Homo sapiens: one gene and its partner. The protein of the gene in region 1 interacts with the protein of each later gene in a biochemical or structural test. Each region holds a gene or a part of one and is shown in the gene's direction. Other genes may lie near its edges.

Region 1 (3,745 bases):
GCCACTCAGCCCTCATCCTGCCCTTTGCCCAACAGTGACGCGCACTGTCTGTGCCGGTGGCTGTGCCCGCTGCAAGGGGCCACTGCCCACTGACTGCTGCCATGAGCAGTGTGCTGCCGGCTGCACGGGCCCCAAGCACTCTGACTGCCTGGTATGTGCCTCTGCTTTGTGCCCAATGTGCTCTACCCCCCAGGATGCAAGGGGTGGGCACCCTGCCTGGTACTGCCCTATTGCCCCTGGCACACCAGGGCAAAACAGCACAGTGAAAGCCAGCCACCTGTCCCCCCAGGCCTGCCTCCACTTCAACCACAGTGGCATCTGTGAGCTGCACTGCCCAGCCCTGGTCACCTACAACACAGACACGTTTGAGTCCATGCCCAATCCCGAGGGCCGGTATACATTCGGCGCCAGCTGTGTGACTGCCTGTCCCTGTGAGTGCCAGGGAGAAACACAGTTTTCTCATTTTGGTGGGGAGGTTTGTTTCTGTAAATGGGAGCATATGGGGAGCACTGTCTGCATCTTGCTTTGAGAGCTGGTCATGACAGTTCCTGCCGAGCTGCCTTGTTCTTTCAACAGCTGTGGAGCAGGTGGCAGTAAGGAGAGGCAGCTAAGAGCCCAGACTTGGGAGCCAGACTGCCTGGGTTTGAAACCCAGCTCTATCAATTAGTAGGCACGTGACCCTCTTGCTGTGCCTCAGTTTCCTCATCAGTAAAATGGGGGCAAGAATAGTCCCAACTGCATAAGATGGTTATAACATTTGAAAGAGTTAATATTTGTAAAGCTCTTAGAACGGTGCCTGGTATGTACTAAGTGCTCCTAAATGTTAGCTTTTATTCTATAGCCTGGTGAGGTCAGTTTTACCTTTCGTTTTGTTTTTGAGACCGAATTTAGTTAGCTCTATCGCAGTGGCGCGATCTCGGCTCACTGCAACCTCCGCCTCCCAGGTTCGTGCTATTCTCGTGTCTCAGCCTCCTGAGTAGCTGGGATTACAGGCGCCCACCACCATGCCTCGCTAAATTTTGTATTTTTAGTAGAGACAGGGTTTCACCACGTTGGCCAGACTGGTCTCGAACTCCTGACTTCAGGCGATCCACCTGCCTCGGCCTCTGAAAGTGCTGGGATTACAGGCGTGAGCCACTGCACCCGGACTTTTTTTTTTTTGGCAGAGTCTCGCTCCATTGCCCAGGCTGGAGTGCAGTGGTGCAATTTTGGCTCACTGCAACCTCTGCCTTCCGCATTCAAGCAATTCTTGTGCCTCAGACTCTTGAGTAGGTGGAACTACAGGCATGCACCACCATGGCTGGGTAATTTTTGTATTTTTAGTAGAGACGGAGTTTCACTATGTTGGCCAAGCTGGTCTCGAACTCCTGACCTCAAGTGATCCACCCGCCTTGGTCTCCCAAAGTGCTGGGATTACAGGCATGAGCCATCGTGCCTGGCCTAGCTCAGTTTTATTTAACAGATCACCTATTTACTGATGGGCGTTTATGGACTGGGCTCAGACCTGGGGAACCTCTTTCCTCCTCTCACAGGAACAGGAGTGGGCCTTCAGATCCTGGCTGACTGTGTTAGGGAGAGGACAAAATGTAGAGCCAGACCATTTGGGTTCAAATCCTCGCTCCTCCACTCACTAGCACAATGACCTTGAATAATTTACAGAACTCTCTGCTTTGGTCTCCCTTTTTGCAAAATGGGAATCTCACAGTGCTGATCCCGTCTGGTTGTTGTGAGGGGTAAATGGATGTCAGGTGCTGATGCGTGGTAGGGCATTTAAGTATTGGTTGATATTATTCTTCTTGTGCCTGGGCACGGTAATGCTGCTCATGGTGGTGCACGAAGGGCCAGGGTATGTGGCTACATGTTCCTGATCTCCTTAGACAACTACCTTTCTACGGACGTGGGATCCTGCACCCTCGTCTGCCCCCTGCACAACCAAGAGGTGACAGCAGAGGATGGAACACAGCGGTGTGAGAAGTGCAGCAAGCCCTGTGCCCGAGGTACCCACTCACTGCCCCCGAGGCCAGCTGCAGTTCCTGTCCCTCTGCGCATGCAGCCTGGCCCAGCCCACCCTGTCCTATCCTTCCTCAGACCCTCTTGGGACCTAGTCTCTGCCTTCTACTCTCTACCCCTGGCCCCCCTCAGCCCTACAAGTGTCCCTATATCCCCTGTCAGTGTGGGGAGGGGCCCGGACCCTGATGCTCATGTGGCTGTTGACCTGTCCCGGTATGAAGGCTGAGACGGCCCCTTCCCCACCCACCCCCACCTCCTCAGTGTGCTATGGTCTGGGCATGGAGCACTTGCGAGAGGTGAGGGCAGTTACCAGTGCCAATATCCAGGAGTTTGCTGGCTGCAAGAAGATCTTTGGGAGCCTGGCATTTCTGCCGGAGAGCTTTGATGGGTAAGAGTGGGCACGATGACCTGAGACAGTGTCAGGGCAGACAGAGTCCTGAGGATCCAGATGTGGCAGCATCTCTTGGGGATGGCAGGAGACAGAAGTGGGGGGATCAAGAATGCAAAGAAAGCAGATGGGAGACCAGAGGAGCAGGGCCTTTGGTGGGTGGGGGTGATTATTTTTGTAAATGACATGCTATCCGTGAACAAGGACTTGTATGGAGGTCAGACCATCTAGATAAAGTAAAATTCCCTTTGAGTTCATAGCAGCTTTATTCAAAATATCCCCAAATTGGAAATAACTCAAATGTGCATCACTAGGTGAAGGAATAAACAAGTGGCAGTGTATCCATTTGGTGAAGTTCTACTTAGCAACCAAAGGAAATGAACTACCGATACAACATAAATGAATCTCAGAAACATTACATTGAGCAAAAGAAGCCAGAGACAAGATTCCATACTGTCTGATCCCCTTTATGTGAGGCTCTGAACCGAAAAAACCACTCTGTGGTGGGAGAGATCAGAACGGTGGTTGCCCCAGGGTGGGGGGCTTCAAAAGGGAGGCACACAAGGACATTTCTGGGGTAATAGAAATGCTCTGTATAGTGATTGGGGTAGTGGATACATGAGCGAATCCATTTGTCAAAACTCATCAAACTGTGTGATAAGAGTCTGTGCATTTTATTTATTTCATTTTATTTTTTGAGATAGAGTCTCACTCTGTCAGCAGGCTGGAGTGCAGTGGTACGATCTTGGCTCACTGCAACCTCTGCCTCCTGGATTCAAGCAATTCTCCTGCCTCAGTCTCCTGAGTAGCTGGGACTACAGGTGTGTGCCACCATGCCCAGCTAATTTTTGTATTTTTAATAGAGATGGGGTTTCACCATGTTGGCAAGGATGGTCTCGATCTCTTGACGTCGTGATCCGCCCACCTCAGCCTCCCAAAGTGCTGGGATTACAGGCATGAGCCACCACACCCGGTGCATTTTATTGTATATAAGTTATACTTCAATAAGAAATGAATTGGGGCCAGGCACGGTGGCTCACGCCTGTAATCCCAGCACTTTGGGAGGCCGAGGCAGGCAGATCACTTGAGGTCAGGAGTTCAAGACCAGCCTGGCCAACATGGTGAAACCCCATCTCTACTAAAAAATATAAAAAATTAGCCAGGCTTCCTGGCATGCGCCTATCATCCCAGCTACTTGGGAGGCTGAGGCAGGAGAATTGCATGAACTCGGGAGGTGGAGGTTGTAGTGAGCTGAGATTTCGCTATTGCACTCCAGCCTGGGCGACAGAGTGAGACCCTGTCTCAAAAAGAAAAAAAAAAAAAAGGGTCAGGCGCCGTGGTGCACAC
Region 2 (3,745 bases), on another chromosome or scaffold:
GAGAATTGCTTGAACCTGGACCTGGGAGGCAGAGGTTGCAGTGAGCTGAGATCACGCCACTGCACTCCTCCAGCCTGGGCTACAGAGCTAGAGTCCGTATCAGAATAAAAAAAAAAAAAAAGGGCTGGGCAAGGAGCAGGTGATTATGAAGTGGTAAATCTGACAGTGAAAAGTAGTTAGAAAACAAAGTGGAGATTTTTCTCTCCACCCTCACCCACCCACTGAGGGTGTATGCTCAGGGTTTTAGGGTATAGAGGTAGAGGCCCAGGGAATGACTGAATAATAATAATGGAAGACTCATATGATGCTTACTATGTGCCAGGTACTATTCTAAGCACTTTGCATATATTAACTTGTTTCATACATAGCTGGGCGGGGTGGCTCACATCTTGGCTGAGGGGGAGGATTGTTTGAGCTCAAAAGTCTGAGACGAGCCTGGGCAACATGGTGAGATTTCGTCTCTATTAAAAATCAAAGGCCGGGCGCGGTGGCTCACGCCTGTAATCCCAGCACTTTGGGAGGCCGAGGCGGGCGGATCACGAGGTCAGGAGATCGAGACCATCCCGGCTAAAACGGTGAAACCCCGTCTCTACTAAAAATACAAAAAATTAGCCGGGCGTAGTGGCGGGCGCCTGTAGTCCCAGCTACTTGGGAGGCTGAGGCAGGAGAATGGCGTGAACCCGGGAGGCGGAGCTTGCAGTGAGCCGAGATCCCGCCACTGCACTCCAGCCTGGGCGACAGAGCGAGACTCCGTCTCAAAAAAAAAAAAAAAAAAAAAAAAATCAAAAAAATTAGCTGGGCATGGCAGCGCGAGCCTGTAGTCCCAACTACTCGGAAGGCTGAGGTGGGAGGATCCCTTGAGATGGGGAAATCAAGGCTGCAGTGAGCCATGATAGTTCCACTGCACTCCAGCCTGGGTGACAGAAGGAGAACCTGTCTCAAAAACAAACAAAATAAAACAAACAGGCTGGGCACGGTGGCTCACGCCTGTAATCCTAGCACTTTGGGAAGCTGAGGCAGGCAGATCACCTGAGGTCAGGAGTTTGAGACCAGCCTGGCCAACATGGTGAAACCCCGTTTCTACTAAAAATACAAAAATTAGCAGGGCATGGCGGCGGACAGCTGTAATCCCAGCTACTCGGGAGGCTGAGGCAGGAGAATCGCTTGAACCCGGGAGGCGGAGGTTGCAGTGAGCCGAGATCGCGCCCCTGCACTCCAACCTGGTGACAGAGCGAGACTCCGTCGAAAGAAGGAAAGGAAAGGGAAAGGGAAAGGAAAGGGAAAGGGAAAGGAAAGGAAGAGAGAGAGAGAGAGAAAGAAAAGAAAAGAAAAAAGAAAAGAAAGAAAGAAAGAAAGAAAGAAAGAAAGAAAGAAAGAAAGAAAGAAAACAAACAAAAACAAATAGGGATTAATAAATAGGCAGAAGCAGGCATAATCCGGGGCAGGGGAAGCCTCGGGGCCACGCCCGAGAGGCATTTGTATTTTACTTTCAGCAGTTCAGAGCCCATGATAGCCAGGTTACCCACTTGTGGACTTCCTTGACCACTTAATTGAGTCAATCTAACCCTCACCTTCTCTCTCCTCTCACTCCATTTAGCGGGTCACGTAGCCACTAGGGCTTCCTTAGCCTATCAGGCCACCTGGGGACTGAGTCATTCAGTCAGTCACCTATCTGGTGGTCACATCTGCCCCTGGGCTCATCCTTTTACTGGGCCACCTCGGCCCATCGGGACCTGTCAGTCCTTGACCTCCCTCAGGCCCCTAGGCTGGCCAGGTCGCCTCAGTGCCACGCCTCCCTGGCCCGCGATTCAGCCTGCACGTTACGCTTTGTTCCCAGAAGCAGGTTTTCGAAACGCGGTTCCCTCTCGGCTCCAGCTGTTTTCCTGCCAGCGCTGGGAGACCCGGCAGCCGCAGCGCCCCCAGCGGCGCGCAGCGGCCCAGGAAGAGAGTGCCTACCGCCGGCGCCTCTTCAGCCTCCTCCTGGAACGCGGGAGCGGGCGCGACCAGCGCCCACCCTGATCGTCGCGACGGTGCTCCTGATTGGCTGCGCTGTGTGACGTAACGGGAGGGCCCCGGCGGCCGCCGGGAGCCGGGGCCCAGCGCGTGCGCAGACGGAGCGCGCTGAGCGGAGGGGGAGGTGGCTGCCGCTTCTCCCGCGTCCGCCATTTTGTTGCTGTGGCTATTGGGAACAAGCTGGGCAAAAGCACCCCGGAGGCGCGACGCTCCTTCGAGTTCGGTGCCTCGTGTGACGGCGGGGGTCGGTGAAGACCCGTCGAGCTGCGGCGCCGGCGCGTTCCAGGCCGGGAGTCACTGGAGGCACCCCTGGGACGCCGAGCAGCCCGAGAACCCCGGGGTGGCCTCCGCTGCGGCTCGGGTTTGCCTGCCCCGACCCCCCGGCTCTGCCGTGCATTCCCGGGCGGCTCTCTCCGTGTGGCGGCCCCGGAGCAGGCGGGCGGCGTCGGAGGATGCTGCGGGCCCGGAGCCGAGAGGAAAGTGCTGGCCCAGCCCTCTGAGCGCTCCTCGAGGTGTGCGAGAGGCCCTTCCTCGGCCCCAAAGCCGTCTGCCGGGCTAAGGCGTGCAGAGCAGGCGAGGACAGCCGCCGCCCCTACCGCCGCAGAGTCCCCGGTCCAACACCATGTCCTCCGCCAGGTTCGACTCCTCGGACCGCTCCGCCTGGTATATGGGGCCGGTGTCTCGCCAGGAGGCGCAGACCCGGCTCCAGGGCCAGCGCCACGGTATGTTCCTCGTCCGCGATTCTTCCACCTGCCCTGGGGACTATGTGCTGTCGGTGTCCGAGAACTCGCGGGTCTCCCACTACATCATCAACTCGCTGCCCAACCGCCGTTTTAAGATCGGGGACCAGGAATTTGACCATTTGCCGGCCCTGCTGGAGTTTTACAAGATCCACTACCTGGACACCACCACCCTCATCGAGCCTGCGCCCAGGTACGCGAGAGCCCTCCCCGACCGCGGAGGAAGGTCGAGAACCGGGTCTGTCGAAGAGTGCTTGTATAGGGGGGTGGGGCGCGCTTGAACCCATATTCCCCGCATTCTGAACCAAATTATTTTCCAGAAGGCCTTCCTAACAGAAAGCTAGTGTCAGGATCTGGGTCACTGGATAAGAGGATGCGTTTTTTTTTTTTCCCTCTCACGAGGCTGTTTCTCAATGTGAAGAGGATGCGTTTTGAATGTTTAACGGTGGTTGCATAGTTAAAATGCACGCTTTTTGCCTTTCGTGACTTTCTCTGGGTGTAATACTGATGCAGGGATTTGTTGGTTTTTCTAAAAACCTCTTTTTTTTTTTTTTTTTTGAGACGGAGTCTCGCTGTGTCGCCAGGCTGGAGTGCAGTGGTGCGATCTCGGCTCACTGCAACCTCCGCCTCCCGGGTTCAAGCGATTCTCCTGCCTTAGCCTCCCGAGTAGCTGGGACTACTGGCTCACGCCACCACACCCAGCTAATTTTTGTATTTTTAGTAGAGACGGTGTTTCACCATGTTGGCCTGGATGGTCTCGATCTCTTGCCCTCGTGATCCGCCTGCCTCGGTCTCCCAAAATGCTGGGATTACAGGCGTGAGCCACCACACCCGGCCAAAAACCGTTTTTAAGCCATAGACTTCTTTGAGAATCTGAAGATAGCCGAGCACTCACCACCCCACCCCCACCCCCACCCCCACCCCTCCCCGCCAAAGGCACGTACACACAAGTTTGCACACCATCCCGGGTGCTTGTACTCCCTCCAGATCTC

What was found.
Region 2: the proteins of ERBB2 (region 1) and CRKL form a complex in vitro, tested with the Homo sapiens proteins (2 studies listed by BioGRID and IntAct, with this or other methods).

The regions. Positions count from the first base shown.
Region 1 is NC_000017.11:39,710,051-39,713,795, forward strand, and holds part of ERBB2 (receptor tyrosine-protein kinase erbB-2 isoform a precursor), read left to right. Parts: intron 1-35; coding exon 36-151; intron 152-289; coding exon 290-431; intron 432-1,877; coding exon 1,878-1,997; intron 1,998-2,271; coding exon 2,272-2,398; intron 2,399-3,102; coding exon of another isoform or gene 3,103-3,219; intron 3,220-3,745. UniProt on the Homo sapiens protein: Protein tyrosine kinase that is part of several cell surface receptor complexes, but that apparently needs a coreceptor for ligand binding. Essential component of a neuregulin-receptor complex, although neuregulins do not interact with it alone.
Region 2 is NC_000022.11:20,915,300-20,919,044, forward strand, and holds the start of CRKL (crk-like protein), read left to right. Parts: upstream 1-2,107; 5' UTR 2,108-2,635; coding exon 2,636-2,946; intron 2,947-3,745. UniProt on the Homo sapiens protein: May mediate the transduction of intracellular signals.